4 linked regions of the Homo sapiens genome follow. The protein of the gene in region 2 purifies or fractionates together with the protein of the main gene of each other region. This does not show direct contact. Each region holds a gene or a part of one and is shown on either strand. Other genes may lie near its edges.

Evidence for each region.
Region 1: the proteins of TMEFF1 (region 2) and STEAP3 purify together in Homo sapiens (affinity purification with mass spectrometry, with the first as the bait; 3 studies listed by BioGRID). This does not show direct contact.
Region 3: the proteins of TMEFF1 (region 2) and ATP2C1 purify together in Homo sapiens (affinity purification with mass spectrometry, with the first as the bait; 3 studies listed by BioGRID). This does not show direct contact.
Region 4: the proteins of TMEFF1 (region 2) and FGF2 purify together in Homo sapiens (affinity purification with mass spectrometry, with the first as the bait; 3 studies listed by BioGRID). This does not show direct contact.

What each region holds. Positions count from the first base shown.
Region 1 is NC_000002.12:119,219,397-119,226,843, forward strand, and holds the start of STEAP3 (metalloreductase STEAP3), read left to right. Parts: upstream 1-4,437; 5' UTR 4,438-4,492; intron 4,493-7,447.
Region 2 is NC_000009.12:100,574,117-100,578,136, reverse strand, and holds the end of TMEFF1 (tomoregulin-1 precursor), read right to left. Parts: intron 1,622-4,020; coding exon 1,537-1,621; 3' UTR 1,203-1,536; coding exon of another isoform or gene 1,182-1,202; 3' UTR 501-1,181; downstream 1-500. Other genes in the region: MSANTD3-TMEFF1 fusion protein, read right to left, coding at 1,537-1,621.
Region 3 is NC_000003.12:130,889,159-130,897,085, forward strand, and holds the start of ATP2C1 (calcium-transporting ATPase type 2C member 1), read left to right. Parts: upstream 1-4,925; 5' UTR 4,926-5,179; intron 5,180-5,391; exon of another isoform or gene 5,392-5,431; 5' UTR 5,432-5,611; coding exon 5,612-5,617; intron 5,618-7,927. UniProt on the Homo sapiens protein: ATP-driven pump that supplies the Golgi apparatus with Ca(2+) and Mn(2+) ions, both essential cofactors for processing and trafficking of newly synthesized proteins in the secretory pathway.
Region 4 is NC_000004.12:122,871,828-122,878,859, forward strand, and holds part of FGF2 (fibroblast growth factor 2 isoform 18 kDa), read left to right. Parts: intron 1-4,493; coding exon 4,494-4,597; intron 4,598-7,032. UniProt on the Homo sapiens protein: Acts as a ligand for FGFR1, FGFR2, FGFR3 and FGFR4. Also acts as an integrin ligand which is required for FGF2 signaling. Binds to integrin ITGAV:ITGB3.

The sequences.
Region 1 (7,447 bases), on a different chromosome or scaffold from region 2:
CTTTTTAGCAAGCAAAAAGTATGATATTGTCATGCACCCTGGTGAGGGGAAGTGTCATCCAGTTCTAGGTTTCTGTGAATCTACCTTGATGCAGGTGTTCAGGGAGTAGTGAGTTTCCTCAGTTGTAATGTAGACCAGCGCTTCTCAAACTTAAACACGTATACAACCTCCTAGGGGGTCTTGTTAAAATGCCATTCTAATTTGGGAGCTTTGGGGTGGCCTGACACTCTGCCATTCTAAAACCCTCCCAGGCCATCATGATCACCACCTTCCGAGCAGCAAGGGGTTAAAACCCAGGCATCTCCCATGATCTAGTAGTGAGTGCCTTTCTAATCGCCCCCAGCTGAAAGGCAATGCAATGTTATCATAGACGGGCAAGAAGAATCTCTTCCTTGGCTCTGTAAATGCTTCCGGGATGTGCTGGGTCAGCCTCCCTCCATTCTGGTTGGCGATCTTGGTCTAGTCACAAGCCAAGACCGTTGATCATACACAAAAGTTTAAGTACCTACTACGCGCCAGGAAGCTCCCTCAGAAAGATGGTTGGTCCTGCTCCCCCACCCACCCTCCACCCTGGCATCTTTTATCCACTCTTCCTTCAGCAACTGCCTTTATCAATGCTCCCTTGAGCCAAAATAAACAAATAAAAAGCAACTTCCTTTGGAAGCTACTCCATACTCTTGCGCTGGCCACAGTTACATCTCCCTGCAGATACACAGATTCTCATGACACAGAGCTCAGACAGTGCTTCCTCTCTGGAGGGCTCATGTTTCGAGAGAAGACTGGAAGGAGGACAACCTTATGCTCCAGTAGAATTCCAAATTCTGGGGTGCAGGGACATTTCGTGTGTGTATGTGGAGGGGGGGGTGTCCTAATGCCCTGTAAGCCACACTTTATAATGCTGTACAATATTGGGTCACCATCATGGGCCATGGAAAGCAGAATCTGTGAGGTTCAGTCCCAGGCTCCAGCACCCCTTTGTCAGCTGGCCTCCCCGCTCAGTGCCCTCTCCCACTACCTGCCCTGCCTCAGCTCTGACTGCTGCTGATGTGCCTCCACCCATCAGGTCATTGTGATGGCAAAGACAATGCCTCCATTTGCCCTGAATGCAGCCTTACATAGGAAAGAGCTTCCTGTGCTCCAGAACTTGGAGGAGTCCTGCAGCACCTGGTCTAGTGGGGAGAGCATCAGTGGGGAGCGGCACCTTTCCTGCAGCCACGGCCCACTGGGCAGGACCAGATCCAAGTGGCCTGGCTTCTGGCTAGGGTGTCAGAGTACATTGGGGCATACAGCTTCCCGTGGCCATCTCGTTTTCATGGAGGATTTATTTTGTGAAGTGGACCTGCTCTGTCCCATCCTATAAATGCTGGATTAATCCAAGAAGCTGAGGGTGAGCAACATCCCTCTCCTTCCTGATCAAATAAGAAATAAATCTAGATTTTCTCCTGGATGCTATTCTCTTCTTAGCCAAACAGCTAACCTTGTCTTCAAGGAAAAAGGGCAATCCCAGGGGCTCTGTAAATTGAATATTCAGCAACTCCAGGGGCAGACATCCCTAAGTGCATAAGTGGAGCACCCCTCTGAATCAGCATCACACCAGCTGGGGGCATAAAAAGGAGAGCAGAGTAGGCAGGAGCTGTGGGGACATTTCTGAGATGCTAAAAGAGGCAAGGAAGTGTGAGGACGGGTGTGCATTCATGCAACAGGTATTTACTGAGCACCTACTATGAGCCAGGCAGTGCTCTATCCATTAGAGATACGGAATTGAATAAAACATAAAAATCCCTGCCCAGGAGGAGCTCACATTTCTATGGGAGAAGACAGTTACTGAAAAACAGTCCAAAAAACTCTATTTTATAGTGTGTTCAGAGGTAATACAGGCTATGGGGAAAAAAAGAAAGCAAGCAGGTACATGGATGAGGAATGGGGGCGATCAGCGTGGGCCTCACAGAAATGATGACCTTTCAGCCAAGACTTGGAGGAGGTAGGGAGGGTACCTGGGGATGCCTAGGGTCCAGGCAAGGGGAACGGCAGGGGTCAGGATCCTGTCAGATTCATCTGAGGTGGGACTGAATGTGAGCAGAGAGAGGGAGACAGAGGATGAGGGCAGAGAGAAGGCCAATCACACTGGGCCACGGCTATTGCAAGGACTTTACTTTTGCTGGGGGAGGGGGTAGAGTTTTGAGCAGAGGAGAAATGCGATCTGGCAAACATCTTGCAAGGATGGCTCTGACTGTTCTATCCTTGGCAGAGGACACCAGAGTCTGGCCCATAGAAGGTGCTCAACAAAGCTCAGCACATTGCACTCCTCCCTGGAGTAGGAAAGGGCTCGTCTGCTTTGGGAAATTTGGCTCTCAAGCTTCTGGAAACACCTGACCCCATGCCAGGTGAGACAAGCTCACACTCAAGGCCCCCTTAGTCCAACGGTCAGTGGACAGAACAAGCACCAAAGGTCAACGGCGTGGGCGGTGGCCTCTCTGCCAAAGTGTGTGGGCCCAAGTAGGGTATTCACCTCCCTCCCTGTCTGTGAGAAATTTCAGACCCCTCTACTTTTTCCAGCAGGAGTTCATGTTCCTTTTAAGATAATCCTCTATAGACCTCTGGCAGCCCAGCCTTCAAAATGTCTCCCCCTGTCTCTCTTACTCATGGAGAGCCCCGCTTCCCCGCCTCAAAAAAAAGTCTTCCTCTCTCTTACTCATGCATGGAGAGCCCCACAAAAAGACACTGGTTCCCAGGGATTCTTCCAAAGATGCTGGAAGACCTCTCAGTGTTTGCATTTCCCAAGCTCGGTTTCCTTGTGCTGTCCTTGGGCATTAAAGGAAGGCTATTCAGCCATCCCCATCAGCAGGAGCAGGCATCAAAAGAACAGCTACTGCAGGGGGAGCATATTAGGGGCACCAGAGGGGGCTAGGAACTGGGTCTTGTCTTCTCAAAGTTTACAACCCACTGCAGGGGCCACTCACCAGCCCTGGCACCCTAAGGGCAGGAACCTCCATTGGGCACGTGTGTCTCCAGCACTGGGAGCACTGTCTGGCACCTGGGGCACTGTGAGTGTTGAATGGATAAAGGACCTGTAAGAATTGCCATAAGAGGTGTTGCCCTGGGGCAAGGTGGGACAGGAAAGTTCTTGCAAGAGAAGAGAGGCTCTGGCCTTGGGCCCTGGCTGAGCAGAGAGCTGGGAGGTGGGTATTCGGGTAGGAGGAAAGCTGTGGAGGGGGAAAGCAAACTGCCTGCGGGGGTGGGGGGGTTCTCGGCGGGAGTTGGGGGTGGAGGGAAAGGCGCTTTACAGCAGCACTCCCTCCACAGGGAGACCAGAGCTCTGCCTCTTCCTCCCCACCGTGCCCTTTGGGGTCCAGTTGTGGGGCCTTCCTTGAGGCCCAGCTCCTGCCTCTGGCCTCCGGAGGCTTATCTCCCCAACAGAGGCTGGCTCCCCAGAAAACAGGATTCTTAGACTTCCTAAAAATAACCTGAAGCTCCTTATCAGAGGCTAATAGTGTATGTCTCCCAGGAATACTCTAGAAAGAGTACCAGGGGTCAGGAACCCCCACTCAGCCTCCACGAATCTGAGCGGAAAAGCCCGGGTCTCCTCACCTGTAAAGAAAATAACTGCAGCCGGCAAATGTGACCACAGGTGAGAAGGGGCTTCGGACCAGGGCGCACACCTCTAGAGAGGTGCCCACAGACAGCCTCCCCTTACTTACGCCCTGCTTCGCTGCAGTGCTGTGAAGCCATCGGCATTGGAAGTGCGGAGGGCAGCGGGCAGTGCCCCAGGGGGAAGGGGGGACGGGTAGGGTTTCAGAGCCCAGAAGGCCTAGACAGGGAGGCAGCTCCGGGAGAAAGGTACCCGCCATCCCACCGGTCTTGGAACCTGAGGACTGCTGGGAAGGGTCAAAAGTCTGCCCTAAGGGTGGACAAGGGACAGAGATTGGGGGGGGACCACAAAGGCCTGGGCGCAACCTTGTTGAGAGGGAAGGGATCCGGACCCAATCTGGAGCCCTGGTCTCTTCCCACCTGCAACCGTGGCTGCCACTTGGCCTCGGTTATAAAATGGACAAGGATTCGAGGTGCTCCTCAGGTTAAGAGAGGGGGGCCTAGAGGTCACCCTGGCCTCGGTGCCCTCCGTGGCCGGGTTAAGAGGAGGTCCCGGAGTTCTGCTCACTTCAGCCGTGTGCCGGGCACTGCAAATCAGGAAGTGTTGGCGCCGGCTGGCGACCTCCCGCCTGGGGCCAGGGGAGGAGGGTGGTTGGACGCTGCCACCGCTGCCGGGGCTGTGCAGGGCTGGGCGGGGAGCGAGGACCCGGCGGCTCCTGATTGCGGCCCCGGGGGAGGTGGCCGAGCCGGATAAGCTGCGGCGGGCTGGAGGGCGGCCACCTCCCCTGCAGGTCCGGCCCTCCCGGGCGGGTGGGGCGCGGGGGAGGAGGAGCCTCGGGCCGAGCCACCGCCTTCGCCGCGGACCTTCAGCTGCCGCGGTCGCTCCGAGCGGCGGGCCGCAGAGGTGAGTGTACCCTCCCCCGGTCTCCGCGGGGCTGCGTGCTGCGCCCGGTCCCCGAGACGCCCGCCCGGTTGCACCCTGCGCCGTCGCTGCGCGGACCTCGGGTGCCGCCACACGTCTGGAGGCGACTTCTGTCCCCTGGGACCGAGCCACGTGCGCCCGGCGGCAGAGAAACCGGGTTCCGGGGCCCCCACCCCGTGTGCCTTCCTTCCCTAGGCGTGGAAGCCGCTTGCGCCGCGCAGGTTAGGCAGGGCCGGCGGCGACAGTGGCGGGGAGCAGGCTCCGGAGCCCCGGGTGCAGATGTGGGCGCCCCTCCGGATGACCCCGGCTGAGTCCACAGGTCCCGTGTGCCCCACGGCTGGGGCTCTGGCCAGCGGTCCCAAAGGAGGGCTGGTAGCTGTGGGCGGGGATCTTCCAGGCTCTTCCTCGCCAGACCTCCCAGTCCCTTCGCAGCCGAACAGGGCAGGGACAGGGGCAGGTGCAGGGGCTGGGCAGGGGCGCCCGACCTTGGTCCCCAGGAGGAGGCTGGCCTCACCAGTGCCCGCCTCTGCCCGCGGAGCCCTTGCCTGGCAAAGTTCCCCCTCCTGCCCGGCAAAGCTCCCCCTCCTGCCCACTTCCCCGAAATTTGGGGACAGGCTGCCCGGAGAGGTGTGGTTGGAACTTTGGTCACTCTGGGTAAATGAAGGGGAGGGTGTGCCCAGATAATATGCGGTTTGGGGACCAGAAAGCCGGATCCGTGGGGAGAAGCAGGAAGGTCCCGCTGGAGCCCTGGCAGAGGGCACAGAGAGGCCTCCCAAATATCCAGGGCCACCTCAGAGATGGGCTCCAGAAGTGGGGATTCTGGAAATGCCCCCAGGGAGGTATTTCTGTCCATCAGAGTGCAGCCATAATATAATTAACAGCAGATATTCCCATTTATGTGTGCCAGGCATCTTGCTAAGGGCTTTGAGCACAATATCCCAGTTAATCCTCACAACAGGAAGGCACCATTATCTCTTGTTAAAAATGGGGAAACAGCCTCAGAGAGTCCACGTATTTTGCAAGGATACACAGCTAGGAAGTTGCAGAAGTAGAATTTGAACCCAGAGTTATCTGACTTGGAGCCCAGAGGAACCTACCACTGGGGCGAAACAGGCTGTGTCCTCACGGGGATTCTGGCAGCCCCAAGAATACAGTGCTGAGAGCCAGAAGGTCCACAAAACCAAAGGGTCTCACCTGGGTGTGTCCTCTCAGTCACCTGCAAGGCTTGTTAAAAATATAGATCCCCAAGTCCCATCCGAAGCTGACTGAATCAGCTAGGGGCACCTGGAGGACCCAGACTATGTCTTACTCATCTCTGTCCCTGGTGGCCTGCAGAGGGGCTGGCAAGGAGCAGGTGCTTAGTGAATGTCTAATGGGTAAGTGGGCGGGGTGGGGTAGATGGTGTCACTAGTGTCCTGAAGGGGGCTTAAATGGAGCAGGTGGCCTCAGCCAGGCAATCCGGCAGCAGGTATGGAAGTGACACAGTCTAATGCTGGCCTCAGAGCCAGCAGGGAGCTCAGGCTGGGCCACTTGTCCACCTGGGGGTTGAACAGCCTGCCCCAGGTTTGCTGAGGTCCCCAGGACCAGGCCAGGTCAAGCTGGGATCACACATGTTCCCTCTCCAGCCTAGAGATGTCAAACAGGTAGATTCCTCTCCCATTCATATCTCCTATCCTTGGCCCACAGCCCTTCCCTTCTTGGACTTATCAGAGACCAAGGTGCTGGGCAGGGCTTCAGGTGGTTAAAAAGTGAAAGTTCTTGAGTGAAGTCCAAAGGCGCACACCTGAGAGCTGAGTGGGCAAAAGGTCGCTGGCTGAGTGCTGGGGATAGTCTGGCTTTGGAGTCAGATGGACGAGTCCAAATCTCAGCTCCTTACCCCGTAACATGAAGCCCTCAGCTCTCTGAACCTCTGTTTATTTGCAAAACCTTGCCAAGGGCTTCAAACAGGATATCCTCATAAAACAAGTATGCCTATTTGGGGGACTAAGTGTGTGAAGTGCTGAGTTTTAGGAGTGCAGTAAATATCGGATCCCTCCTTCTTCACCTCAGGTTTGCGAGTTAACCAGTGAGGGGCCTTCCAGGCCTAGTGCTCTTGTAGACCGAACCACTAGCTTTCCTAGAGAAGGCAACTGAGGCCTAGAGAGTGGCCTCCAGGTTCCGTGCTCTGTGGCAGAGCTGGCCTTGGCTCCAAGTCCCAGGGTTCCCAGCTCAGTCTCAGCTGATGCCTCCCAGCCTGGCGGTCTACGCTGCCTGCTACATTCCCTGTCCAGCTACAAATGAACAACTGAGAGGGCTGGGGTGAGATTCAGGCAGGCTGGGGCAAGGGAAGGAAGCAGGTCATTTGGGGAGTCGGGCTCTCTGGTCTTCCAGCTGAGGCTGGATCCACTCTTTCCTGTCCACCCACGGTGCGTAGTGGCCAGGTCTTCCTGAGCTGAGCAGGTTGAGCACTATGAAACTGCTTTCTAGCATCTAGACCAGGGAGTTGCCTCTTGATTTAAAATGAGGATGTTTACCAGTTTAAGTAGTTATTAAAACCTAAGGCCAAGTTGGTGCCTTTCCTCCCTCTAGGAGTTGGAAGGGTGTGTGCTTTTTTCTGCTCCTACCCCACCCCTGCCAAACCATCCCAATTTGAGAGGCTGTGGAGATTACAGAACTTGGAGAGGAGAGGGGCAGGGATCGGGGTTGGAGACTAGATGGTTTTCAAACATTGGGCTACAGAAGTCCCTCTTCCTCCCATCTGTCTCCTGCAGCTGGGTCCACCCACCTGTCCAACACAGCCTCCCACAGGTCCCGGGCCTCTTTGTGCTCCAACCGTCACATCCTTGGCATGCCACACACCCTCACCATCCTGCCTGAAATGCCAGTCCTCATCACTGACATTCAGCCTCCCATGTGCCAGCATCCGGGCCAAACACTTTATCTACAGGAGCTCATTTG
Region 2 (4,020 bases):
ATTTCTCAGCGTAAGATGTCCTAACCACAATCAATTCTGGCACTTGGAGCAAAAAGTCAGCTTGATAACAGGCAACAGGGTTGTTTAAAGAGTTGGAAACCCCACCCCTAGAGAACGGTCAAGTATTTATAACTACAAATACCCATATGTGACTGTTCTGCAATCTGAACCCTTGCAAAGCACCGGGGACTGTTCCAAACATGCTTGCTGACTGACTAAGGGACTCAAATAAGACTGTGTGGGTAGAAGAGTAAAGCTTTTTAAAAAAGTTCACTAAAGCCACCATGTAACTAATATTAAACCTAGAAGCCAAATGATCAAAAAAGCAAACTCCAAATGTTGGGTAAAGCTTTTGCCTTTAGATAATTTCAATCAGTATTTGTAACAGTAAAGGGGAATTCTGAACCGAAATCTGCTTTTTCTACTAATTTCACATATTAAATATACTGAAACACCAATATCAAAAAATTTGGTAAATAAACACACCAAAACAGAGGCCATATAGTGAAAACATTATATTATAACATGCTTTTCCAAACAAAATATTAAAATTAATAATTTTTAACATATTCTTTAAATTCTACATGCATACTTTTGAATATCTAAACTACATGTTAAACAGCTGAATACATTCTACTCACACTTCAGATCTTTAAACACCAACAATCTATGAATATTAATCTATTACTACAGGACAAATTTGGATATACGTCTTGGATAAATTTTAAGCTCACTTTAAGAGCACCAATCATTAACAATCATTTTTGTATTTTATTCACAAACACTGATACGATTTGTTTATTTATGTTAAAACAAACATTTTCTTTAAAAATGAATGTGTATTAAAGTAGTTTAACTGGTAGAATAGGCTTTATTCCAATCTGTTTGTTAAACAGCCTATTTTCACAATATCTATATCTACTTTTCATTGATCTGTTCCATCATTACTAACATATTTGTTCAAATTATTAGGACTATTTTTTCAAAGGGAGGAATAATCAAATTCCCCAGTCCATATATCTTATAAATATTTTACACCTAATACACACAGCTTTACAGTTCATGCGATAGGCAGTGTCTAAAAAATCAGTTACTAAATCTCAAAAACATTTAAATATCTATTTAAACACAGTGTCTTCTAGATTTTTTTTGTAAGAAAAGTAATCTGTAAACATCTTTACCTTTAGTTCATGCTTGGTCATTTGCTGTGGTCATTGTGGAAGAAGTGGATATGACTTTATAACCATTTGTGAAGTAGTCCATCTTTGCAAAAATATTACATTCCATGGGTAAAGAACAAGTCTTAGAATTACCATGTGGTACAAATTTGTGAAAGCAATTTCTGTATTTAAAAACATAAAACAAAGACTACTAAACAGTCCAAAACTGTCGTAGCTGAATATTCTAAATACGAGCCAACAGTACTACACTAAAAATGTCCAAAAATAAGGCCTCTGAAATAAATATTTCCATTCTTTAAAAAAAGACATAATAAATGTACATCACATGGTCAGTGTACATATAAAAGTCATCAGTTTAAACCATTCTGGATGACGTATCTGAAGTAAAATGACCTAGGTTTTGCTTCTGTCGACGTCCTCTATTGTTTTTGGGGCATTTTCTGTTGCATTAAAAAAAGAAAGAGAGAAAAATATTGTTTTGATGATTTTGTTCAGGATATTTCAAATGTTTCCAAAGTAATACACATTTTGCACATAAAGCCACATTGCAAGCAATTACATGAAAGGGAAATGAGATGGTATCTGTTGCAAGACAAGATGAAGATGAACACAATTCAGACTGCTACCTCCTCTACAAACCTGGAAGTTGAGAGGATTAGATATGTAATATAGGTACTGGCACAAGCAAAACTCATTACCAGTGTCTATGCTACTATGTATGCATCCCTGACAGATATCCCACCCTTCCTCCAGCCTAGAAACTCCCTAGTCACAGTGACTGATAACATGAAACCCCTGACAGGAGAAAGGACTCTGGCCTATGTACTTTCCCTGTGCATTATGAGAAGACAGCTCTAAAATGACAAGAAGAGCTTAGATGAAGGGAGAAATCAGGAAGAAGTGTGCTTATTAACCTCAGCTATGAATACATAGGAATGTCTACTGATTTTAGACAATGACTCAAAAGAAGCTGTCCACACCCTCCTGGGGCAAACCACAGAAGCCCATAAGGAACTGCCACACTGAGGATAAGGGACATTCTTTAACTCTGCTCTCATTTTACCACGTTTCTCAACAGCAGTACAAATCTCACTGGGTTGGAACTGCTCTTGTGCCTGCACACTAGATTGCAAACACAAGATGCTGTGCTATGCAATGTGGAGTAAGGGGGCTAAGACGAATTCTGGGCTCTGCTAATAACTAACTGTGCAACCTCAATTCTCCTATATGTAAAAAATAAATTAGGAGTTGGACTAGCTTCCAAAATCTCTGCCAGCAAGAAATTTACAACCTAATGGAAAGAAAGTCTTATAACAATGAGTACTCCTCATTTCGTTCGATTTCAAAGAGTACAGCTTTGCCTTGACTAAAAGTGTTGACAATACTTCCATTTTGTATATGGTTTTACCTCACTAATCCTCATTTTAAAAGTGTGAGGTAGACAGAGTTGGAATCATCTCCATTTCATAAATGAGAAAACTAGCTGACAGATCAAGCAACCCTCTTGTACTGTCACTAACTCACCATGACCTTGGAAAAATTCCAATTTCCTAGTGCCATGGTTTTTAAATCCATAAAATCAGGGCGTTTAGTTAAGGTGATGTTCAAGGTTCCTGACAATCTGTCATTCTATGAGTCTGAAAATATGAAAGGCGATTCCAAGAAGAAGAAAAAAAGAAAAATTGACTCATGCAGTCTTGATAAACAGGTCAGTGGGAACATCCTTTTAAAGAAGATTCCTCCCATGTGACAGCCGCCACGGTATATGTCAACAGCTGTCTCATAATGGACTGTGTGGGAGAGATACTTAAAAACTCAATGGAAATAAATCCAAGTACATAAATGTTCTAAATCCAAGATAGCAAGACATTCTAGGGGAGGAAATACCATAATAAAAAGACAGGCCTCCAGGAGAAATCTGTGATAAATTCAATGAGATGACTCTTCAATCGTAGAGACAGTGGGCAGTAAAGACACTGTGACATAGTTAGAAATACACTGTGATGTCTAAGTGGCTGTGAGGGCAACAAGGAGGGATCTGGAGTATAAACTAGAGGGTACCTACTTCAAAACTGCCTGCCAGGTAATTTTAATTGAGTAGTTGAGCATTATAGCACTGAAAGAGTTGGGTAAAAGACTGTTGTAAGGGGGCTTTCCTAGCTCTAGGACCTTAGACCAAGGTACTTCTTATCTCAGGGCTTCAGTTTCCCAACTTCTCTAAATGAAGGGGTTGAACTCAGAATTGTTTCTCATTGACTCTGACATCCTTTGATCCTCTTAAAAATGGCACTATCTGGCTGGGCACAATCCCAGCACTTTGCGAGACCGAGGCAGGTGGATCACTTGAGCCTAGGAGTTGAAGACCAGCCTCGGCAACATGGCCAAACCCAGTCTCTACAAAAAAAAAAATACAAAAATTAGCAAGGCATGGTGGCGCATGCCTGTAGTCTCAGCTACTCGGGAGGTTGAGATAAGCCCAGGAGGTGGAGGTTGCAATGATCCAAGATCATGCCACTGCACTCCAGCCTGAATGACAGAGTGAGACCCTGTCTCAAATAAAGGCACTATCTCCAGGCCTCAAACATCTCCCCTTACTTTACCTTAATTTTCCTTCTGCCTTCCAAATCATTCATTACCTCACTCCTATTTAACTCTAATAATGACTTAAATGGTCTTCCCCCTACCTCATATGTTCACTACTCCAATGAATTTTTCAGATGACTCATTAATACTCTGAAAAATATGGTTTATACCAAGTCCTTCCCCTGCTCAAAAACCCTAAACTGCTACAAAATCAAGTTTGAACCCTGCTCCCATGCAATGGTCATACTGGGCAAAC
Region 3 (7,927 bases), on a different chromosome or scaffold from region 2:
GGACAATTTAGACACGCCAATTAACCTAACATGCACAACTTTGGGATATGAGAGGAAACCAGAATACCTGGAGAAAACCCATGTAGACACAGGGAGAATGTGCAAACTCAATACAGTGGCCCTACCAGTAATTGATGTTTTTTTCTCATCATTTAATGAAATGATGTTGAACAAAATGACCTTATTCGAGGACCTAGTGTACAATGCTTTTTGTCAGGCATTAATATTCATGCCATCAAAATCAAAAGCACAGGCTCAGCTAAAATTTCTCAAATGCATGGAAACAAGCACCTCAACACTGTTATCTTTTAATTTCAAATGGTTACCTGGGCTCAAAATCTGGGTGTGCAATTTTATCTGCTCTGGGCAGTGCTCAATATCGAGCATTTCTTACAACAATTAGGACTTATTCCCATTCAGATAATGTTGTCCTAGTTAACCCCTTTGTGGTTTTTGGAGATGTAGGTTTATTCTTTAAACTTTTTTTTTTTTTTTTTTTTTTTTTGAGACAGTTTCTTGCTCTGTCCCCCAGGCTGGAGTGCAGTGGCATGATTACAGCTCACTGCAGCTTTGACCTCCTGGGCTTAAGCAATCTTCCCACCCCAGCTGCCTGAGTATCAGGGACCACAGGTGTGTGCCACTGCACCCAGCTAATGCTTTTATTTTCTGTAAAGACAGGATCTCACTATGTGGTCAAGCCTGGTCTTGAACTCCTGGGCTCACACAATTTTCCTGCCTCAGCCTCCCAAAATGTTGGGATTACAGGTGTGAGATGCACCAGAAACCCTTAAACTTCTTAAAAATCCCTTAAGTCCTCTTGGTTTTACAGGAAAGTAGGAGCTTGGATTTTAGTTTGATCATAGGAAACAAGTAGATTGTTATTCATTCAACAAAAAATATTTATGATAAACATTTTTCAGGCTATCCATTTATTTAATAGGTCTTTATTACATATTTACTGCTGTCAAATGTTTTGGGGCCAGAGGTGAATTATGCTAGTTTGGAAACTAGGTGGAATATTATCATTTAAATGGATACCTTTGTATCTCAAAACAAATCCTGTAGTTTATATAATTTGGAATATTGTATGTCTGTTTTCCATGGAAATGATGAAGTTCATTGGTCATGGTACTCTTGGGTCATGGGACTCACACTCACTTTGCTCTTACCTCTTTCTTATTTTCACATGCATCCCATCGACACTCATGTCTAATCCAGAAGACTGGTAGTATATAAGATCCCAAATATTACCACTGGCTCAGAATCTGAGCCAATGAATGGAGAGACTATGTCATACTTGAAATAAACTTCTTTAACAATAAAAATTAAGAGTATAAGTTCTCTCATTTCATCTCAGTTTCATCAAATATTTCATGTTTAAAATGCTAGCAAGTGTGAAAGAGGCTATGGAATTTTGTGAGTGATAAAATATTTGTAGAGTACTTGGGGATCTGGATCTGGGTGCTATTAAAACCAACCAAACACAAGTAGCTCATATGAGTCCTTCAATTTTTATTCTTGCTTCCAACTTTTAATCTTCCAGCACTGCCAAAACATGGAACTAGGCAGATTTATAGCAATTCTGGTAGATGTTTGTTAGGAACTGATTTCGTACAACACTCTTGGCAATAAAACTATAGTTTTCTAAACTTGACATTTAGCATGTCCTTTATCTTATAAGAAGAAAAATACTTCTGTTGTTCTGTTGGAGTAGGTTAGCTTATAAAAATAAAGTGATGCATCTTTATATGTTTTTAACGTGTCCAACTTTGCCAGGCATGGTGGTTCATGCCTCTAATCCCAAGCACATTGGTAGGCCGAGGCAAGAGGATCTCTTGAGCCTAGGAGTTCAAGACTGCAGTGTGCTATGATGGCATCATTGCACTCCAGCCTCAGCGACAGAGACTCTGTCTCTTAAGTTAGTAAGTAAATAAATAAAATGTTCAACTTAAAATAAAATTACAATTTCTTTTCTAGCAGCTAGGTGAAATTTCTTAACTATTAACCTCTGGTACTTTAAACAACATTAAAACAGCCTTTAAAAGAAGACATTAATTAATTGAGGAAAGATTTTAAAATAATTTTTTCCAAGTTTTAATTTTTAAATCCCTAAAGAACCACATATTCTTGTACCATCCAGGTTTATAAAAATGCAGCTATCAAATTTGATATTAAAAACAAGATACCGCACACCCTTTGTGGAATAAAGCACAGTATAAAGAAAATTAGAATGTCATGACCATTCTTCTTCAATCTTTCCCATTTGTAATATTTCCCCCAAGCGGAAAAGCCTGACAAATTTCCCTTTCTTGCACGTGACCACTTTTTGCATCAGATGCATTTAATTTTGTAGGTTAAATATTCAGGACAAAAGGAGAGTAGAAAGAATTTTTAGAGCTTTGATTTCTATGGAAGCAATAAGCTGAAACTTGGAAATAATATGTTTCATTGCCATCAATCCCATTGTAGCTAGCTAACACTCCAGGGATTTCCTTGATTCTCTCTATAATAATCTTATACTTCTATAGTGCTTATAATTTGCAACCTGTGTTCACTTACTTTATGAGATTCTTACAAAAATCTTTTGAAAGAAGGCTAGTGTGTATGTATATGTGGGTGTATGAATATACATATATATGTGTATATGTTTGTCTATACATATACATATGTGTGTGTATGACATATATATGTATATAGTCATCCCTCATTGTCCACAGGGGATCGGTTCCAGAACCCCCTCAGACACCAAAATTTCCAGATGCTTAAGTTTTTTATATAAAATGACTAATTGGTCAATTCTTCTTGGTAAAGTTGATCTTGATCTTACCAGTTTCTTTTTTGGCTTAGTAATAGGAACAATGATTTTCATAATTTAGGGGACCAAAAGTAAAATTTCAGTTTAAGTCATTTTAGGAATAAACCATGGAGCTATAAATCTTTTGGAGGAGTTATAGATTCAGTGTTAATGCTAGAGTATTGCAGTATATTAATACAACAGATAGTTCTGAAAAGTTGCTTTAGAAAAATGTTTCAGCTAAAGTGACCCAATACCAAATTCTGTACAGTTACCCTCTATTTTGTAAATGCATATGTTAATATCAAAGTATTTATATTGTGTAATTTCCTACCTTAGGTGCTTTTGTTTTTAATATAATGCTGTTTCAAGGTCGAATATGTACAGTAATAACTGTTACAAATTGATTACGAGAGATCACAATCATTGTACAAATCACAGGCTATGTCATTGTGTAGACAAAAATCACTGACCATGCATGCCAGAGGTGGATCATAAATAGTAACTCCTAAGACTAGAAATCTACTTGATATTTTTATGGGTTCATCTTTAAAAGTGACCTCGCTGAATAAAAGTTCAATATTTCTTAAAAGAAAGGTAAATCTAAAAACCGTCCAGAATTTTCGATCCTAGTCTAGTACCACTTACTTGGGAACAAATATAGAAGCACAGGCAACCCCGTCCGTTAATTTGGCTCCGTCATTGTGCAGACAAAAATCACTGACCATGCATGCCAGAGGTGGATCATAGTTAACTCGTTAAGACTAGAAATCTACTTGATAGTGATTTTTATGGGTTCATCTTTAAAAGTGACCTCGCTGAATAAAAGTTCAATATTTCTTAAAAGAAAGGTAAATCTAGAAAGCTGTCCAGAATTTTCAATCCTAGTCTAGTACCACTTACTTGGGAACAAATATAGAAACACAGGCAACCCCGTCCGTTAATTCTGATGTTGAACGTGTGGTTAGAGAGCACACTGCGATATGTTACAGGACCTGAGATAAAAAGCAAATTTGTAAAGTGTCTAAGTGTTGATGGAGAAAAACACATCTAGCATATACGGAAATTTTCTTTTGAGTTCTCTGTAGGATGATCACCAACTCAGTAGGTGAAGCCCTGCCCTCTAGTGGTTATGGGTGTGAGAGGACTTCTGTTCAACATTATATGTCTGGCTCACCACGGTTTATTAAAACCAATCGTTCATTAAAAAGCACTTATTAGGGGTCTGGGTAAGATGCCGAGCAAGTGAAATGTTTACGTGTGAAAAGGCATTGACACTGGACAAAGGTACAGCTGCTAAAAGAAGTGCTCGTTCATTGGCTTCGACAGCTGTACGACTGGTTTCTAATTGCTGTTCCAGCCTCTCCCCAGTTCCATATACCACAAACGAATGAAAAAGATTAGCTCTCCCTGGAGCTCTCTGAGGCTGAACCTTGCTCTCTCATTACACATGGTAACTAAGCACACCCCTTAAAGAATTTTGGGAAGTCGCCCCGCGATTACCGGCTCCCCCAAGAACCAAGCAGTCAGTGCAGGGTTTTGCAAGTGAGAGTGCGAGACTCGGGAGGCTGCTCACGGTGCTCCAGTCCCTGGCAGGAGCATGGACACCTCGCCCCTTCCTTCCGTGGGCCTCAACGTTGCCTGCTGAGATTGTGACTGCCACCCCGACGGGAGCAGCTTCCCCTACAGACTTTGTAGAGAGCGCTTAAACGCCTCGGGGACAGCGGCCATGACTCTCAGCTTGGGCCGACCCCGCGGCCGCCCCACGGGAATGCGTGGCCGACACGGGGCGTGGGCGAATCTCCGACCCTCGCGTTCAGGGGGTGCATATAAACGGGCGGACACCGTCCCTGGGGTAAGGGAGGCGCCAGCAAGAACAAGGCGGGCCACCAACCCCGAGCGACCTCCTACCGGACGGATCCAAACCCAAACATTGTCCATTCCGGGCCGAAGTCTCGGCCTTCACTTCACTTCCGCCTTCCCAGCCCGTGAACACGAATGCGCCTGCGCGCACCTCTCTCAGCGGAAGTAATAGTGACAAAGCTGGGTTCGCGGCTGGCCCAGGAGTGCGGGGCGCGACTGGGCGGCCGGCGGCGGGGAGGGGCGGAGCGCAGGAGTCGGAGGCGGGAGCAGACCAGCACGGCCTCGCGGAGCCGGCCCGGCGGACCGTGACGGGTCCCCTCACCTCCTCTTCTCTCCCCTCCCCGCCCGCCCTCTCTCCCTCCCTTCCTCCCTCCCGCTCGCTTCTTCTCACGCCGGGAGCAGGCTCCCGCCTCGCACCGCTGCCCCGCGAGCAGCTCCTCTTCTCCCGAGGCGCGCGGGGCGCCCCCGCGAGCCCCGCGGCTGAGACCCCGCAGCCTGGAGGAGGGCTGTCCGGGGCTTTGGGTGGGTACCAGTATTACCTCCTGCCCCCATTTCTAGAAACTTCCAGGTTCTGAAGGAAGGGGAGGTTCGGGTATCCCCTGGATGGGGGGGCATCTCTAGGGCGCCGCCCCGCTGGCGTGAGCTGGGGACGTTGCGGGCACACGACGGGGCGGGTGCGGGATCTTGGGGAGGGGGGCTCCCGAGATAGTGGCTGGGCGGGGAACTCCTTCCTCAGCCTCTCGTCAGCGCCGCTTCTCCTGGTTTCTCTTGCAGATGCTGCTGCTAGGGGTGGTGGGAGCAGCCGTGGGACGCGTGGCCGGGAGCGGGGGTGACAGCCTGGGATTCCGGGGGCTTCTCTTCCTTGTCCTCCTCCTCTCCTCTCTATTCCCAGTGTGGCCGTGGCTGACACTAAAGACTTTGTAGCCATCAACCCGAGTGCAGTTTCGATGGAAAATGAAGGTAAAGGCCCCTGGCCGACCGGTTGCAACGCGGAGTTGAGGGTGTGGTGGTTTGCTTTTAAGTTGTCTTTGTTTTTCCACCTTTTTATTTTCGTGAGCTTATTTATTTACTGTGTATGTGAAGTGTCCAAGGATTTGCTTACTTAGGGTATCCAGCTTTTATTTTGGTAACATGGGGCATTTGAGAGATTGAGGTTCTGTGGGTGACTGAGCTTGATTCAGCTTTCTTGAGGAATTCCTGCTCTCTTCAGCTTAGGGAATGAGAGGGAAGTTTTCATTTCAGATAGCGTCTGTGCATGTTTAAATAGCTATTTGAAAGGAATTACTCGAGGGGAAGTGGAAATGGGGGACAAGGGGATGGGGCTGCATCTCTGTATATTGGCGTTTCAAGCCTCGATGTGGTGTGTGGCAGGATTCATTTATAAGAAAGCAAGCCATGTTTTATTATGTCTAGCATTGGGGAAAAAACTCATTATTTTTCAATTCACAAAAAAAACCCAGTGAATTTAATGAAATGTTATGAGATGAGTGCTTTTCTTAAAGTTCCACCCTATTTCAAAACATCATTTAGGAGGCTGACAGCGGAACCTGTTTGTTCACTGTACACTTTGGACACATTAGATCGTCATTCACATGTTACATGATCCCTTTGGCCTCGTTAAAATATTTAATGCTTTTCCTACACAGCACTGATTATTTTTAAAATTGTTGAACAACTGTGAATAAGTGATTTTTTTTCCCCCTCCTGAAACAACACTTATTCTTTGGACTGACTTCTGACTTGTGCGTGATCATTTTTTTTTCTTCTGCCTTTAACCGGGCTGCAAAATACTATAAAAGATACTTAACAAATGACAGTTTTTTCCTCTGGTATAATTTGTTTTAAAAAATATGTGTCTGGTATAAAGGAGCTGCAGTCTTGCTGGCTGCTTCTAATTTGTTTTTCCATTGTTGAGAATGTAAGCTTGATTGTCTGACTAGGACTAGTAATTTTGAAATGGGTGTTTCTTATAGATGCAGTAATGTGTTTTGCTCTCTGAGACCTCTGGGCTATGTAGGGAATATGATGAGAGGCATGATTATATTGACAAATTTTACTCTGGATGGATAATTGGCGGAAGACATTTTCTGAAATACTAAAGTGTATAACTGCAGAGGAGTTATACTGTCTAATTGGGTCTTGAGAAACATTTGAAAGCAGTGATGTTTTTGGTGATAAGGAAAGTCACTTTTCTGAGCCTTTTTCCTCTCTTTTAAGTTTATTGATTTAAGAAAGGCAAATCCATTCTGCACATGAGACAAAGAATGTTAAATGCATTCATATACTTGTTTCTTGGTAGAAACATCTTAAATAACTTCTAACATTTAATGTATGTTTATGAGCTTGTTTTCAGAATGGTACCAGATTTAAGAGGGTAGCCTAAAGTAGGTGGATTCTTTCATGTTGCTTTTGTTTCTTGATCTCTCAGGAGGAAGAGCATGAGTAATAAAGCCGATTCTCATTATCTACTGAGGTGGGAGGGGGTGGTTGTGAGATAGGAGAATGGTGCCTACTTGTGTCTGTCTCTGTATTTTGTGGCCAAATATGAATTTTGTGGTTTCATAGTAAAAGATTATACAGTTCTTAAAAACGTGTGGGGTTTTCTGTCCCGTTATTCTTGACCATCAAGAGACCATTTTTGTCAGTTTCTCCCTATCGTCACATTTTTTTTTATATATAAACAGTTTGAAGAAGAGCCTGTATATAGCCTAGAAATTTTCAAAAGTGACTGACCATATTAAACTACATAGATTGATACCTGTGCCTTTTTATTGTTCACTTGCCTTTTTGTAGTTTTCATCCTTCTTTGATATAGTGTAGTATTAACAATTTGGAGGTGTGAAACAAAAATGGATTCAAGTCTTGACTAACTTGTCTTGAACCACTTAAAGCTGTGTGATTTTAAGTAAATTACGTCACCTTTCTGAGCCTGTATTTCTTCATCTATAAATTGGGATTGATAATCTTTAACTCACAGAATTGAGAGGATTAAATGAGAAACCCTGTATAAATTCTCTTGTGAGGTAGGAATGATAACGTTTAAGAGCTTGAGTTGTGGTGGAACCATGCAGACTGATTTGAATGCTGGATTCGTCGCTTACCATTTGGCTTTGTGCATATTAAAGTTTTCTGTGCTTCCGTTTCTTCATAAAATAAAGATAATGATAGAACCTACCTTATGAGGTTGTTGTAAACATTCAAACAGTATCTGGCACATAGTAAGTGCTCGGTAAATGTTAATTATAAATTGCCTAGCTGAATGTTTGATAC
Region 4 (7,032 bases), on a different chromosome or scaffold from region 2:
CAACAACAAAAAATCCCCCACAAAAACCCCATTCAAGGGTCAGCAGCCTCAAAGACTGAAAATAGACAAACTCACAAAGATGAGAAAGAAATCAACGAAAAAATGATGAAAACCCAAAAGGCCAAAGTGCCTCTTCTCCTCCAAATGATCGCAATGTCTCTCCATCAAGGGTGCAGAACTGTATGGAGGATCAGATGGACGAATTGACGGAAGCAGGCTTCAGAAGATGGGTAATAAAAAACTACGCTGAGCTAAAAGGAGCATGTTCTAAACCAATGCAAAGACGCTAAGAACCTTTATGAAAGGTTAGAGGAATTGCTAACTAGAATAACCAGTTTAGAGAGGAACATAAATGACCTGATGGAGCTGAAAAACACAGCATGAGAACTTCGTGAAGCATACACAAGTATCAACACCCAAATCAACCAAGTAGAAGAAAGGATATCAGAATTTGAAGACCACCTTGCTGAAATAAGGCATGCAGACAAGACTAGAGAAGAAAGAATGTGAAGGAATGAAGAAAGCCTCCAAGAAATATGGGACTTCATAAAAAGACCGAACCTACTATCGATTGGAGTACCAGAAGAAGACAGGGAGAACAGAAACAAGCTGGAAAACACACTTCAGGATATTATCCAGGAGAACTTCCCCAACTTAGCAAGACAGGCCAACATGCAAATTCAGGAAATACAGAGAACACCACCAAGATACTCCACAAGAAGATCAACCCCAAGACACATAATCGTCAGATTCTCCAAGGTTGAAATGAAGGAAAAACTGTTAAGGGCAGCCAGAGAGAAAGGCCAGGTCACCTACAAAGGGAAGCCCATCGGACTAACAGCAGACCTCTCAGCAGAAACTCTATAAGCCAGAAGAGATTGGGGGCCAATATTCAACATTGTTACAGAAAAAAATTTTCAACCCAGAATTTCATATCCAGCCACACTAACCTTCAAAAGCGAAGGAGAAATAAAATCCTTTCCAGACAAGCAGATGCTGAGGGATTTTGTCACCACCAGGCCTGCCTTACCGGAGCTCCTGAAAGGAGCACTCAATATGGAAAGGAAAAACCGGTACCAGTCACTGCAAAAAACACACCAAAATATAAAGACCAATGACACTATGAAGAAACTGCATCAGCTAGTGTGCAAAATAACCAAATAGCAGCATGACGACAGAATCAAATTCACACATTTTGCTATTTTTCTAATTATCCTATCTGTCCTTTACCTTCTGTCTTTCCCTTTCTGCCTTCTTGGGTTAATTGAGTAGTTTTAAAATATTTCATTTTGCCCTTATAACTCAGCTGCCAAATGTTTGGGTTGGTGGGGAGCTAACCTTGCTCTTGAACTGTACTCCTGGCTTTCCACATCTTGGAAGATCTCTCTTTATCCTGCTGGTCATTGGCTTTGCATTTGGTGAAGGCTCAGTGCTTCTCAGAAGGATCACTTTCAGCCCTTTGACCTGCTCCCAGCCTTCAGTGGACTGCTGCCTTGCATTCTGCAAAGGCCCAGTGTACTTGAAGAGGATCTCTTAGCCCTTCTGTTCTGTTCCTAGCCTTTGGTGTGTGGTACTTGTGCACTGGGTGGAAGCTCTATGGGAAAGAACTGGCAGGTGGATATGGAGTTGCTCTTTGATCAGGGCTCTTCAGAATTCTAATTCCTCACATCAGCAGCTAATAAAAGTTTCTTAAAAATTCAGCTGGTTTCTTCGTGGTCCCATTTTTGGCAAGTTTATTCCTCCTTCTATCAGAGATGAAGCAGCTATGCATCTCTTTTTTGGGAAGAGGTCATCTGTATATCGAATTTATTTAGGAGATGAAGCAGCTATGCATCTCTATTTTGGGAAGAGATCATCTGTATATTGAATTTAGTTTATTTAGGTTTTTTATGCATCTCAGCTCAGATAGTTTTTATAGAAAATCTATGATTTTGTGACTTCCTCAACTTCTTGTTGTAGACTCTGGTTATTTTTAAAACTTGTAATTTAAAAATTATATGCCAATGGAAACACTCTTCAAGAATCTTACATGTAATGCTTATTGCTTAGTGGTTTAATGAATGACAACAATCCCTGAGTGTGGGAATAGTTGAGGTCTACAAAAGGTTAATGAGTAAATGAATTATGTTTACTTTGGGTATTGAGTCACTGGTACTGATCTGGCCATACACGAATATCCCTAATCACCCTCATGACTAGTAATACACATTTATAAGATGGTGGACCAGAGCTGGGCTAGCGTTGATTGATAAGGGACAGAAAGAAAGTATAGCGATTGATTATTCAGCCTTGCCTCATGGGCATTTGTACATCCTTATGAGTTAAAGTGAGATGCAAATGCATTCTTCATTAAAATGGCTTATCTGAATCATTTTAGAGCTGTATGCAATAATTTGCTTATACTCATTAAGATAAGTTTGGTTATGTTGATTAAAAACAAAGCTTATTTTCTGCATTTTCCAATAATATTGTAAAAAATACTTCATACCCTTCATTGTTTGGGTTTCATGTCTTCATTACATTCCTTTTACTTCGTATTATCTTTTAAGATTTTGTAGAAGAATTTCACTTGGGTAACTGTAGGCTTAAATGATGCAATGCTTTCTGGAATCCAGGGGTGACTGACACACAGAGGTGACTCAGACATGAAATGTTCAACAAAATTCTAAGATTGTCTTTTTTTTAAATTGTAAATTCTTAAACATTCATAAAAGTAGTGAGATTAGAATAATGAAATCCTGTGCTTCTAATGACTGTTAACACAAGTGAATCTTATTTATCCTATCCACTTTATTAAAAATTTAGTTATCTATTATTTAAAATAATATATTAGCTTATTTTAAAGCTAATCCCAGATATTATGTTTCATTTTGCATGTCTGTTGCTGTCTTGGTAGGAAAAATTTTAAAACATAAATTACTATGACATAATGATATCTAACAAAGTTAATTATTTAAGAAACTTTCAAAAGTTGCTTTTTCATGCCGTTTCCCTAGCTACCTATAAACACCTGGAAATTATATTTATTTTATATTTCTAATGTTATTCAAATGATAATATGCTGATTTCTAAAATTGCATTTTTTTCTGTTGCTCTCAAGAATATCCTAAACATATCCATAGGATGTGGGATGACCTATGAAAATAGTCTGGACAAACATTTATCTTGTTTATCTTATGATAAGCAGAGTTCTGAGAAGTTTGGTAATAAAGAGTTAACTTGGTTTAACTAAGATTTTCCTAAATTATTTGACACCAGAACCTATTTTTTATTTAACATCTGTTAGCAAAAATATATTTGGGGGAATATTGTTCTAGGCAGGAGAATGCTGCCTCTGAATAGCAAAATAATCTTTACTTCATTTTTATTTCAATTAATTAGGTAATTATTTGTCCATATTACATTATCATCATAATTAAGTAATTTTTTTTTGTTTTTCTGTAATCTGCTTAATATTGATAATGTGGTGTGACAAGTCATCTTTCTCAGGATCTTATTTTATGAAAATCTTTCATCACACTTATTTTATGAAAATCATTTGCTGTGTAAGCAAATTAAGTATAAGCATTTTGTGTTTCCACTAGATAGATATTTGCACACAAAAAAATAGACATCAAAATCCCATATAGAAAGCTAAATGCATCTATAGTTCATTGAAGAGGAAGCTAGAAATAAGATGTGTAGAAGTCAAAGAAATAGGGCCGGGCGCGGTGGCTCATGCCTGTAATCCCAGCACTTTGGGAGGCCAAGGCAGGTGGGTCACGAGGTCAGGAGATCGAGACCATCTGGCTAACATGGTGAAACCGCGTCTCTACTAAAAATACAAAAAATTAGCTGGGCGTGGTGGTGGGCATCTGTAGTCCCAGCTACTTGGGAGACTGAGGCAGGAGAATGGTGTGAACCTGGGAGGCAGAGGTTGCAGTGAGCCGTGATTGTGCCACTGCACTCCAGCCTGGGTGACAGAGAGAGACTCCGTCTCAAAAAGTCAAGGAAATACAGCTCAAATTATAACAGTGAATAACTAGATTTTGTTTCATTTGTGAAGAATTGGCAAATAACTTTTAAATAGTTTCAACATAGGCAGTAGCATGGGAATTCTCCTACACTTTTATGTACCCTTAAAATATGTTCACTTTAAAAAATGTAAATAGTTAACAGGGGCGATTGAAAGCTAACTGCCCAACAAAGGAAACAATTCTCCGTGTGTCCCCCTTCTCTGCTCACCCTGTGACACCTTCTCTGCTCACCCTGTGACACAGGAGCGACAAGGAACTCACAAGGCACTGGTGCCCTAGTAGTTCTGCATCTCATCCTCTCTCATACAGTTTAGTTGACATCTGCTCCCTGTCACTCACCCATACCCCCAACCTCACCAATCCTCCAAAGTGGATTAGTTGTTGCTTAGGTGTGTTTTGTCTTTATATTGCGTAAATATTGTGAAGAAGGCTCTTTCCTCTGTGGTGCTACAAAGATAATTTTTTTTCCCGTTACAGTCAAGCTACAACTTCAAGCAGAAGAGAGAGGAGTTGTGTCTATCAAAGGAGTGTGTGCTAACCGTTACCTGGCTATGAAGGAAGATGGAAGATTACTGGCTTCTGTAAGCATACTTTCTGTTTTCACACGTTTTTTGTTAGCTTTTATTGCTGTTAATTTACCAGCATTGTTGTTTATCAAATCTTTATAAAGGATTTTACGTGTATCATCGTCATAGTCACCCTGTAAAATAGGGAGTATTTTCTTTATTTCACAGATGCAAAAACTGATGTGCTGAGGGAGTAAGTAAAGTAAGAAAACACAGCTCATATAAAGTAGAGACTGGATTGGGCTGGAGGCATTCCTGACCTCTAAGTCACTGCTTTTACTCTGCAAAACTATTAAGCTATAATTTAAAAAAAATTTTCTTCTATTATGCAGTTGTTTGAAGATCATTGGGAATAAATGTATACAATTTTGATTATTAGTTTTTAAGTTTCTTCTTTAGAATGTGACGTACAAAACACTAGCAATGTAGAACACTAGTTGAGAATGTAAGCTTTCTGCCTGGTACAGATGCCGACTCTGCCACTTATGAGCTCTGTGTTCTTGGGCAAATGATTCTGAGTTAGTTCTCTTACCTGTAAAATAGAAACAATGATACTATCTCATTGGGATTTTATCAGAATTTAATTAGATACTACACATCAAGTGCCCAAATCAGCATCTGACACGTAATAGATCCTGAAAATTGTTACTTCTTCCTCACATTACTTCTCATTTACATATATGTCAGGAGAGGGACTTTTTTTTTTCTTTTTTTTTTTGAGATGGAGTCTCACTCCACTGCGCAGACTGGAGTGCAGTGGCGTAATCTCGGGTCACTGTACCCTCTGCCTTCTGGGTTCAAGCAATTCTCCTGCCTCAGCCTCCCGAGTAGCTGGGATTACAGGAATGCACCACCATGCCTGGTTAATTTTTTTGTATTTTTTAGTAGAGACAGGGTTTCGCCATGTTGGCTGGGCTGGTCCTGAACTTCTGACCTCAGGTGATCCGCCTGCCTTGGCCTCCCAAAGTGCTGGGATTATAGGCGTGAGCCACCGTGCCTGGCTGTAGAGAGGAACTTTTCTTTTTTACATGTTATCACAGCTTATCAGGGGTCCTAGTTCCTGGCTAGTATTCTTTCCACTAGTACAGGCTCCCTGTCAACTTCACCATTATTATTAGAAACGGGACTGCATATCTGTTGAACATATGATGTATAAAGAATGGTGCAGGAAAATAAATATAAAAGACAGATCTCATTCCTGTCTCCGTGAGGGAGTAGATAGGACATGTATGTAAATGTTTGTGCGTGTGTGTGTTTCACAGCTCTTACACCAATGCCACTGGCCAGTTATGACATCTCTATATAACCTCCCCACAGAAAGGATCTAACAGTACTAAGAAATTGTGGTATTTTGAGCTATACAAATAGTTTTTGAAATTTCTTCTGAATGAAGACCTTTGGATTTCTAAAAGCACCAAAACAAGGCTTACAGAGAAAAAGGGTATCTAAACTATCCCAATTTCAGACTGACTGTATGACAAAGATATACTTACATTGATATTACCAGTTTATGTAATTTTTGCAGGATAAATCACAAGTTTGAGTGTAGTGGCTCTCAATTTTGGGGGGAGGTAGTTGAATAAATTTTAGAATTCTCTTTAAGAATAGCCAATACTTATTAAGTGAAAGTGTGCCAGATGCTATGGTAGGCATTGAGCTTATAAAATTGAATATCAAATTGTCTCTGCCCTTAATGAGTGACAATCCAGGGGAGGCAGAAGTGTAAATAAGTATTTATAATAATGTATAAGGGTTTTGATATGCTACTTCTATATTTTGCATACATGCATAGTAATATAGGAAAGGATAAGAAGTATTATGATATAGGAAGCAATATAGAAAATGAGGTAATTACATTTTTCTAGAATTGGGGGAGATGACCTATAAGTAGAATTTTAGACGTTGTAAAGGAAGGAGTTCAGCAGGCAGTCATGGGGCAGAAGAAATTGAGATGAAGGTATAGATAACTCTAGGACATAGGACATGAAAAGGTGTGGATAAAAAATCTACTTGATGTATCTCTAGAATTACAAGTAATTAACTAATGCTGGAATGTATAGTGCAATGGAGTAACTAGGTGGAAGGGAAGGGAGAGAAGGCTGGGGAGGTAGATAGACTGTCTGCTGAATCTGTTGAAGGGCTTTATACACCATGCTGACTATAAGCAGTGGAGAGCCATGAAGAGTTTTAAGAAGAGATCTAATTAGATTTAAATTTGAGAAAGATCATCCTGGCAGAAGTGTAGAGAATGGACTTGAGGGGGCCAAGACTGGTGGAGAGAGATCAGTTAGAAGGCCACTGTAATAGTCCAAGCAAGTCATGTTCTGATCCTGGCAATAACAGTAGGTCAGAGAGGAGTGAGGAAAGTGCTAGCACTTGTGATTGATTAGATTTAGGACTGAAGATGAAAGAAAAGTCAAAGATGGCTTTTAGGTTGCTGGTTTGGGTGA